Homo sapiens: one gene and its partners. The protein of the gene in region 1 purifies or fractionates together with the protein of each later gene. This does not show direct contact. Each region holds a gene or a part of one and is shown in the gene's direction. Other genes may lie near its edges. The genes, in order: MYO3B, CHLSN and KL.

The links.
Region 2: the proteins of MYO3B (region 1) and CHLSN purify together in Homo sapiens (affinity purification with mass spectrometry; one large-scale study listed by BioGRID and IntAct). This does not show direct contact.
Region 3: the proteins of MYO3B (region 1) and KL purify together in Homo sapiens (affinity purification with mass spectrometry; one large-scale study listed by BioGRID and IntAct). This does not show direct contact.

The regions. Positions count from the first base shown.
Region 1 is NC_000002.12:170,650,083-170,652,994, forward strand, and holds part of MYO3B (myosin-IIIb), read left to right. Parts: intron 1-1,545; coding exon 1,546-1,652; intron 1,653-2,025; coding exon 2,026-2,072; intron 2,073-2,900; coding exon 2,901-2,912.
Region 2 is NC_000007.14:1,009,136-1,012,787, reverse strand, and holds part of CHLSN (protein cholesin), read left to right. Parts: intron 1-2,487; exon of another isoform or gene 2,488-2,556; intron 2,557-2,644; coding exon 2,645-2,838; intron 2,839-3,652. UniProt on the Homo sapiens protein: Hormone secreted from the intestine in response to cholesterol, where it acts to inhibit cholesterol synthesis in the liver and VLDL secretion,leading to a reduction in circulating cholesterol levels. Acts through binding to its receptor, GPR146.
Region 3 is NC_000013.11:33,022,900-33,026,551, forward strand, and holds part of KL (klotho precursor), read left to right. Parts: intron 1-3,652. UniProt on the Homo sapiens protein: May have weak glycosidase activity towards glucuronylated steroids. However, it lacks essential active site Glu residues at positions 239 and 872, suggesting it may be inactive as a glycosidase in vivo.

The DNA.
Region 1 (2,912 bases):
AGTGCAGTGGCGCAATCTTGGCTTACTGCAACCTCTGCCTCCCAGGTTCAAGTGATTCTCCTGCCTCAGCCTCTCAAGCAGCTGGGACTACAGGCGCCCGCCACCACGCCCAGCTAATTTTTGTATTTTTAGTAGAGATGGGGTTTCACCATGTTGGCCAGGCTGGGTTCTGATAGTCTTGTCCAAATATAGATTTGTCCCAATTCAAGAAAAATCAAGATACAAAACTTTATACTTAGGGAACAAATATTTTGGTATTAATAATGGACCTTGCTAAGTCACTCTCTACTTTAAAAATTCCCCCAGAATTTTTTTAAATCGTGGAAATCTCTGGTGAAGTTAAAATATGATACCAAGTAAAATCTCCAACTCTTTTTAATGAATAGTTTATAATAAACACTCTGTCCTCCAGGATAGTGATAGCTTTTCTCTAAACAACAACATTCATGGACAATATTCTATGACAGAGGTGTGTGTGTCTGTGTGTGTGTTGCCAAGAAATTAGAACTGCTGAATCCTGATTCAGATATAGAGCCAAAAGGACAGTAGATCCAAAAAATCATTTGCTTGGAAGGGAAATGAATTATGACTTTTTTTTTTTTTTTTTTTTTTTTTTTTTGAGATGGAGTCTTGCCCTGTTGCCCAGGCTGGAGTGCAGTGGCACGATCTTGGCTCACTGCAACTTCCACCTCCCGGGTTCAAGCTATTCTCCTGTCTCAGCCTCCCGAGTAGCTGGGATCACAGGTGTGCACCTCCACACCCAGCTAATTTTTGTATTTTTAGTAGAGACGGGGTTTCACCATGTTGGCTAGGCTGGTCTCGAACTCCTGACCTCATGATCCACCCGCCTCAGCCTCCCACTGCGCCCAGCCATGAATTATGACTTCTTCTGACTCGTGGTTTCTTAATCTCCAGGGCACTCTTGGTCCAGGGTTCTGAAATCAGGACAAACAGGGAGAGACTGCTTCATGTAATCGTGCAATCATCCTTTCTCCTTCTCTTTTACACTACCTCCAAAGACTGCATGCATCAGTGGTATTGTTCAAAGCATTTCAGTAAATTTTAGCTCAAGCCATTTCCCCCCCGACAAAATGTATCCCACCAAAAGGTTTGCTTCTCACCTCCCCAAGAGTATGTGTGCTCCAGATGTTTTTGAACTCTCATTGCAGGATGTGGTGCAAACAATCCCAGATTACTTTGGTTGTCCTAACATAGTCATGCCACTAAGGGCACCCTACTCTATAAATGCTGACCACCAACTTATACTTCACCAATGTGGAAACAACAACTTGCTTTCTGTCACCCTGGACTGCTGATTCAGATCAGAAAGCTGAATGCAAAGTTACAGACAGTGGCCCTTGTTTACACTTAGCAATCTGTGTGTATTTTTTAGGATGGCATTTCTCCTAATATTAGTAAAGCTTTTAATATGCCCATTAAAATAGGACACAGTTTCTACTAAGTGCATTTATGTGAAGAGCCATTTTTCACTTAATTTTCCCAACACCTCGGACAGTTTACAGCAAAGTTTTGCTCTTTTTTCAGGTTCAGAAAATGGTCTTGCACAGAAGCATCGAACACCTCGCCGACGATGTCAGCAGCCCAAAATGCTGAGTAGCCCTGAGGACACCATGTACTATAACCAGTTAAATGTGAGTTCAAAGTGGCCGTAAAGCTGTTTCACTGGCTTTGTTTCCAGTTAATAATTCTGTTATTACTACCTGTTCCAGCCCCTGCAGCCCCACCCCCACCCTCATGCTCTCGTCTTGAACATGTGCTTAGGCTCTTTATCTGTTGCTTTCATGTCAGGATGTCTGCCTTCACGGTGAATAATTGATGTGGTTTATCAAAGACGAGCAAGATGCATGCTTCATCAGGCTCACTTGAGCCCTTTGATCAAAAAAAATTATGCTGTGACTTCTGATATTATCAGCATCTGCTTGCATTCAACACAAAATCACTTTGAATTAAAAATTAACGACTTGCTGCTTTGCTTTGACTGTGTGTTCTTGGCCCTCTCCACAGGGAACTCTAGAATATCAAGGGAGCAAGAGGAAGCCAAGAAAACTTGGGTAAATATCTGTCTTCTTAGTTCTAAGCAACTGTAAACAGAAGGGGTCCTTTGTGATATTACAGAAAATGCAAAACTTTCCAGAGAGGCTTCTAAAAATATGCAATCCAGATATTGCCACTCTTATTGACATTGGAAATTACTTTTCACAGTAGCAAGTATACAAAACTTGAATCTATTCTGTCCAAAAAGGTTGAAATTGTCACCTAAGGGCAAATGTTATTTCTCATAATTATTCCAGGGAATTGTACTTTCTTCATAATTAGAGACATGTAGTGGGTTATATAAAATTCTCCTTCCACAAATAAGAGCACTCTACGAAGTACAAATAGGCCACTTCCTCCACATTATCCTACCCCTGGGCCTTAAAAACATGGACAAGGAGAAACATGCCCAACTGGTTAGATAGAGGATAGTAAGGAATTTGTCGTTCATTTGATAGTTAGCATCTCAATTGAGAACAGCAATGAAGTACATAATGGTAATAATTAGAGAATTGGGGGAGGTCAGGAGGAAAACTTTCTCATCTAGAGGGAACCAGATGGAGACAGAGTTCAATCCCATAAAGCAAGTTGCAATACGACCACAACTTCCAGACACCACAAAACTGGACCCACTATCAGTGCACGACCCAAAGGTGAAGGGCTTTGTAGATCAGACCCTGGTACCTCTGTACTGGGAGACCCTGAGCTACCTAGGAGCTGTCCTTCCCCTCCAGTGTTGGAGCCCAACCCTGTTCCAGCTACTCACATGACTTTAGCTGCCCCAGTGATGATTGTAACATTTGTTTTATTTTTTGTTGAAAATCCTGTTGTTTTCTTTGTTGCAGCCAAATCAAAGT
Region 2 (3,652 bases), on another chromosome or scaffold:
AGCCGGGCACCCCCAAGGCCCCTGGCTCTCCGGGCGCAGCACCCTCACTCCAGCTGCCCCTGCGTCTTCTGTTGAGGCCCAGCACAGAAAGCAGGAGTTTGGAAAAGTTAAAGGTGCACCGGCCAGTGTCAGGCACAGCCCAGGGCAGTGGGTGGCACTCCTGAGCTTCCCACCTCGTGGCCACAGTGGCTCCCTCGGGGACACGGGAATTGGGCTGTGACTCCTGCCAGGTCGGGAGCGCTGGTGGCCAGAAGCAAGAGTGGGTGTGAAGGAAGCTGTTTCCGCAGCATCCAGGCTGGTGCCTGACACAAGAAGCAGCCCTGCACCGGGCGCTCAGGAAGCCTGCGGGAAACAGCTGGGCCTGCGGGTCCCCGGCTTGGCCCCGATATGGGACGGCCTGGGTTCCCCTCGCCATCCACCCCAGGCCAGCGCCCACGTTGCTGTTGCCCACAGCCTTGGCCCCGTCCTCACCACTCTGGCCACCAACCTGGGACCCTACCACAGGGCCCTGCCCACCTGCTCAGGGCCTGTCCGGGTGCCCCACGCATGTGGGCTGACAGACCCTCGGCCACCGCGGCGGCCCCTGTGCAGCCCTAACAGTGTTATGGACTTTGGCCCGTGTGATCAGCCGTGGACTGCGTGGCCCATGGAGTGGGGGCCGAGGCTGGGCCTGTGCCAGGAGGGTTTTTACCTTTCAGGGCCAGTTGTTGTGCCTGCCCCGTTGGCGGCTGTGGGCGGCTGTGGGCCTAGGAGGTGAGCATGGAGCTGGTTGGAGCCGGTCAGTCACCAGGCTCCCCTGGGGGTGTCCACATCCCCACCATGAAAATCTTGCTCCCCAGAGCCCTGCGTGCCTGGCCTGGTGGGTCTCAGAGCTTCCTGCCTGTGTGTGTGGGCGGCCCAGGCCTTCCCACCGGGACTCTTCAGCCTCTCTGTGCCAGGCATCTGCCAGGGACGGTGCTCCTCGTCCCCCAGGCCCTGTCTCTTGCTGCGGACCCCTGGCAGGCTCTAGGGGTGTGGCTGTGGGTGTGTTGGCGTGTGTGTATGGTGTTTGTGGGTGTCTGTGGGCGTGTGTGGGTATCTGTGGGTGTCTGGGTGTGTGGGCATCTGTGGGTGTCTCTGGGTGTGTTTGGGTATCTGGGTGTTTGTGGGTGTCTGGGTGTGTATCTGGGTGTGGGCGTGTGTGGCTGTGGGTATGTTGGGATGGTGTGTGGATGTGTTTGGGTGTGTTTGGGTATCTGGGTGTTTGTGGGTGTCTGCAGGTGTCTGGGTGTGGGTGTGTCAGGGTGTCTGGGCGTGTGAAGGTGTGTCTGGGTGTGGGTGTGTCTGGGTGTCTGTGGGCGTGTTTGGGTGTGTGGGTGTTTCTGGGTGTCTGTGGGTGTTTGGGTATCTGTGGGTGTCTGGGTGTCTGTGGATTTGTTGGATGTGTGTGGGTGTCGGTGTGTGTGGTTGTATGTGGGTGTGTGGCATGTGGGGGTGTCTGGGCGTGTGGGTGTTGGTCTATGTGTGGGTATCTGGGTGTGGGTGTGTTGGGTATGGGTGGGTGGGTATGTGGGTGTCTGTGGGTGTGGGTATGTGTCCGTGTCTGTGGGTGTGGGTGGGTGAGTGTGGGTGTATGGTGGGTGTGGGTGGGTGTGGGTCGGTGTGGGTACATGGGTGAGGGTTGGGGGCTGTGTTTGGCTGTAGGGGTGAAGTCTGTGAATGTGTGTGTCTGTGTCGGGGGGGTGGGTTGCATATATATCTGTATGTAGGGGGGCTTGCCTCACTCTTCTTTGCTCTCCCTGGGGTGGGATGCGTAGGCGTGGGCTGTGCCCGGCCTCCCTTCCTGGAAGCTCCCGGTGGGCGCTGCCTGGTTGATTCCCACGCCCCTAGCTGTTTCCCTGGGCTCCTGGCCTTGCTCGGAGTCTACACTGATGTTCTGACTTTTCCAAAAAAGACGAAGCATGTGGACAGCGGCTGGGGTCACCTCATGGTCACCCCGTGGCCCGGCTGCCCCGGCTTTGACGCTTTGCACCGTCCTCTTCTTTTGTTAATGAGGGGAGGGTGGGCAAGACGGAGGGCCTGTGCTTTCCTGGCAAGATGTGGCTGGGGACACATTGTCACAGCGGGCCCTCTCCCTCCCTTGGGGGTCTTGGCCCCCTCCCTGTCCCCAGCCTGCAGCCCAGGGGGAGCCAGGCAGCCAGTGACCTGCCAGAAAGCAGCAGGCCCCAGGCACCGTCCTCGGGATTTGGGTCGGGTCTGGGGCCAGCACCTGGCCTGTGTGATAACAGACACCAGCACACCTTCAGCCCTCCCTGGGGGCCGGCCCGGATCTTCCCACACTGTGTGGGGTGGGGCAGGACCTCACAGAGCCTCGGGAGCCGGGAGTCTGTGGGAGGTGGACCACGGGGGTGGGGAAGGGGCCTCTGGGCAGTTAATCCTGGCACCTGGCGCCTGCCCGCAGGACTGGCCATCCTCATGTGACCTGTCTGTCTCTTCGTCGTAGCACAGGCTTAGCAGGATGGTGTCGGCTGGGGCCAGACCCAGTGCTTGGGGACAGAGCTTTTGGCCACTACTGAGGTGAGGGTGGGCTCGGGAAGCCCCAGGCAGCGCACCCGTCTCTGGATACCCTCCATCCCCGAAGCCTAATGTGTTCCTTGACTTTCAGGGCGAAGCTGTGCTCAGGCCCGGGCTGGACGCAGAGCCAGAGCTGTCCCCAGAGGAGCAGAGGGTCCTGGAAAGGAAGCTGAAAAAGGAACGGAAGAAAGAGGAGAGGCAGCGTCTGCGGGAGGCAGGCCTTGTGGCCCAGCACCCGCCTGCCAGGCGCTCGGGGGCCGAACTGGCCCTGGACTACCTCTGCAGGTGAGCGGCCCTGCCCCACGCGGTTCTGTCCCGGACGTGCGTCTCAACCCCTGCCTGAGGGGGTCGAAGCCTTCACTCGCACACACTGTGTGGAAGGTTCTAGAGCAGTGAGGTATGAGCGTTCATGCCAGGCCTGTGCTGCCGCCGCTGCCCTTTCTGTCTGAATGGCCCAGAGCCTTCAGGAACTTTCAGGGGCGGCAGCAGAGCCGCTGCCCGTGCAGGGGTTGCCTGGAACTGTGCTTTTAGAAATGGGTCTGATGGTGAACCTTGCCCCAGGTGTACGTCACCACAGGAAGAATCCACGGGCCTGGGTGCTGCTTGGACGTGGGGGTGAGGAGGAGGGAACTCGTGGTGGCCTTCAGCCCTCACTCACAGTGACAGGAGGCGCCACTGCCACCCAAGAGCGGGAAGACGGGGATTGTGGGGTGCTGGGCACAGGGTGCCATCTCCCTGGCTGCCTGCGGCGTGGCTGGGTGGATGGTGCCTGCGGCGTGGCTGGGTGGACGGTGCAGGATTGCAGGGGTCAGAGGCTTTGGCGTGGGCTCCACAGCCTTGCGGGCTGTGGCCACCTCCCCGGCGCTTACCAGCACAGGCTGCTGCCCGTTCCTGTCCGTCTCCCTGAGTGCTGACTGCACCTAGAATAAGGGGTGTCACGGCGTCCACGTGGCTGGCTTCCTCAGAGACAAGAACTGGGTCCCTGTGATGAAGTCACCCTGAGGGGCAGGGTGTCCTGTGGGGGCACTGGCCCTGCCTGGGAGGACAGGCTCCAGCCGCACCTCTGTGGGAGGCCCTCGGAGAGATGACCTCCTCGGAG
Region 3 (3,652 bases), on another chromosome or scaffold:
CGCTTGCAGTCTGCTCTCACACAATATCTGGGAAGGAGTTTTAAAGAGTGAGGAAGAACAGTAAAGATTTTCCTAGGCAGATACGTTATGTGACCTTTGTTGATTTCCAGAGCACATAATATCCCAATTTCATCCAGTGGACAGGAAAAGAGAGGAAGAGGGAAAAGGTGGCCTCTCAAGTGCCTGACCTGGAAGCTGCACCTATCACTGTCCCTTGGGCAGAACTCAGTCACATGGTCAAAAGGAGTCTGCAAATAATTGTCCCCTGAGGAGCCGGGTGCTCAGTGAATGATTCTATTAAGTTGAAATCAGATGGGAACAGATCATTTAGGATAACCAGCAGGCTCTACCACATTGCCTAACTCCCAGGCATATTGTGAGAATTAAAAGCACCTTATATATGTCAACGTGTTTTGAAAAAATACAAAAAGCTCTACAAAAGTGAGCTATAAATTTATCATTAATAATAATAGTAATAATAGCAAAATACTTGAGAAATGGTCCTCTTGAGCTGTTTAGAAGGAATCATACAAATGCATTAGACATGGTAGCCTCACTTAACTACTTAATTTGCCTCTTCTTTGAAATTATTTCAATAGCATTTGACCAAAAACTATCAAATCATTTTTGAAATAACGTATTTTTACATAAAACACATTATCAAATATCTTTCTGGATCCAGCTTGGTGGTAAAAAGATACATACTAAAGTTTATGACTGATATAACTTTATATATTGACTAAACCAAAGATAAATATTGATTGAACTTTTGTGGCCCCAGTTTCAATAGATTTTTTTATTAACATTTTTTGTTTGAAGTACAGATGTCACGTCATCCATGAACCGGTATCATTATAGCTTGATAAAATACTCAAACTGAAAGCAGTGATGTACATTAATTTTAAATATAATGGTTAAGCAAATGTTATTTCCATATCTATAAGTGCATTTTATTTGATAATTAGAATGTTAGAATCAGAAGGAATTTGGAAAATCCCAGGTTACACTTCTCTCCAGGACGAACTCCTTACAGTGGCTCTCCTGGGGTCAGCTAGCTTTTGCTTGACCCTTTGAAGCAGGAGGAACTCAGTTCCACTCAAGTTGCCCCCTTGATTTTCTCTTTCATATTGAACCTGCTGCTGCACAGGACTCCTCCGTGACTGTCTCTTTGCCTTCCTAAATCTCAAAGAATAAAGCAAGTCACTTTTTGACAAGACATCTTTCACATATTTGAAAAGACATCTTTCACATATTTGAAAAGACCAGTACGTTTTGTTCTTCCTAGAATTTTCTCCTTCATGCTAATGTCTGCTCCAAGAAGACATGGAGGTGACTGGACATTTAGTCAGGAACATTTCTTGAGAGCTTACCCTGTGGCAGGCAGGTGCAATGTTGAATTCTGAGAATATGAATGTAACCTTTGAACAGGTGGCTCTGTCTTCTGACGTTTCAGGATAAGGTGGAGGAGAGGAGAGGGGAAAGTCGACCTATCTCCCCAGCGGGGAGGGTTTAGGGTTGTCTGTGGGACCTGCCTCTGTCTCATCATCCATCACCATTGTCCTGCTGATGGGTGCAGAGGACTGAGGACGAGTGGTTGGAGTTCTCCCTGTGCCGGACCCTGTAGAGAGTCCAGAGCCCTGGCTCCCAAAGGAGGCATATTTGTAGGGCTCTTTTCGTGAGGGTCCAGAGGACGGCTGCAAAGCTGCAGGGGAGGATGGGGGCATGGGAGGCAAGCCCGTTGCCCTGTCAGAGCCTCTTGGGGATGCTGCTCTTCCCCGCCTGTCCTCTCTTCTCTTTGATTTCTCATCATGTGGTCCTCTTTCCTCTGCCTTTTCCTCTCTTCGGTGTCCCAAGTTCTTCCATAGAGACCTGTGTCCCCTTGTTCCCATCAGGCCTTTATGCCAGCCCTGCACAGGTGCGGGGACAGTGGTAGGGGCGTCTCACTCCCGACTCAACTACATTCTCCCAGAAATTGTCTGCAGTCAAACACAACTCAGCGTGGACATTGCTCACCAAAGGTATACTGCTTGGGCTGCACGAGAGATTCAGTTTTCTCCTATCTATCTGGCATGGGCTGTGAGGGGGCTCCTAACCTAGGGGGCCTTTTTACTCCTTCCTGGCCAGAGCTGCCATTTCCAAGTTTCTGCACTGTCAGAAAAGAGGGATAAGGTAAGATTCCTGCCCTCATGTCACAGATTAGTAGGGGAGAGGTAATTGTCAAATAATTACAGTAAAATGTATAAATGCCTTAAGAGAAATAAGTACTTGCTTAGGAACCTATTTCAAGAAAGGAGAGATAGGTTAGCGTTTTGGGGAGGTAGTACGGGAGCAGTCAGGGAAAGCAATACTTGTAAGATCAGAGGCTGGCAATCTTTTTCTGTAGAGGGCTAAGTTTTGGACTTTGCAGATCCTACAGTGTCTGTTGCAACTATTACACAGTTCTGTGGTTGCAGCATGAATGCAGCCATGGGCAATGTGTTAATGAATGGGCACAGCTGTGTTTCAATAAAACTTTATTTACAAAAATAGGTAGTGGGCCCTGCTGCTGGGCTTGGCTTGCTGGGCACACAAAGTGAGAAGGGCATTGTGCCTTTCTAGGAAACATCCCTTGCAAAGTCAGTACAGGTGAGACAGTGTGGCCATTCCCACCACAGCATGAGGTCTTTTGAATGGCTGAAGCGTCAGGTGGGAAAGGATGAGGAGCTGAAGAAGAAAGCCTGGGAATTTCCAAGGCCTCTCTTAACATTTGCTGTGCAGAACCAAGCAGTGCCCCAGGTGTTCAGAGTAGGCTTCAGCGATTACATTTCTTGTTAGACACTGAATTTTGTTCATGCCGCCCAAGATTGCATTAACAATTTTGGCTGTCACCTTACCGCGGACTCAAATTAGTTTGCAGTCAGCTAAAACCTCTCAGGTTTTTTCCCCCCAGCTTGTGAATTGCTGTGAAGCCAAACATCCCTGTCATCTCTTTGGTAGTTTATTTTCAAACTTTCAATCTTATTAAATTTCATCTCCAATGTGCAAAGATAAGAGGAAGTTTACCGCTGATGGTGGTTTATTCTTTAAAACTGGACATCAGCTAAATGTGTTAAGGTAATCCGTTAGAGGAATGTTGGTACGCTTATACAGTGGAATACTAATTGGTTATTAAAATGTTGATGTATGATTATTAAAAGGCAGCCCATGTTATGTCTCTTCTGTATGAATAAGTATGTAAAAAGTATGTAAAGATTACTGTATAGTTCATGGGTGGGACTGGGCTCTCTCTAGCCTCTGTCCTTCATTCTCCCTGCCAGTGCCTTTTCCCTTGCAGTGTCCCTTCCCTGGCTGCATACTCAAGACTGGATTTGCCCAGCCAAACCCCATTAACTCACAGAAGCAAGAGGAAAAAAATAAATTCTTATTAGTTCAATTCTCCAAATTGGGGGCGGTCTATTTCACAGCAATAGGTAACTGACGTAAAAGGAAAGGAAACAATGAAGTAATTCCAGAAAATTTCCTATAGCTGGAGGACATGCATTTTCATATTGAATGGGAAGAATGGGGTGGGGGGGTCATACCTCTGTGTTATTGCAGGGTCCTGGCTCCTAGGGACCTAGGCACCTCTTCAGTCAGTGAATTATAGCTTGGAAAATTGGCTAAGTCGGGGAAC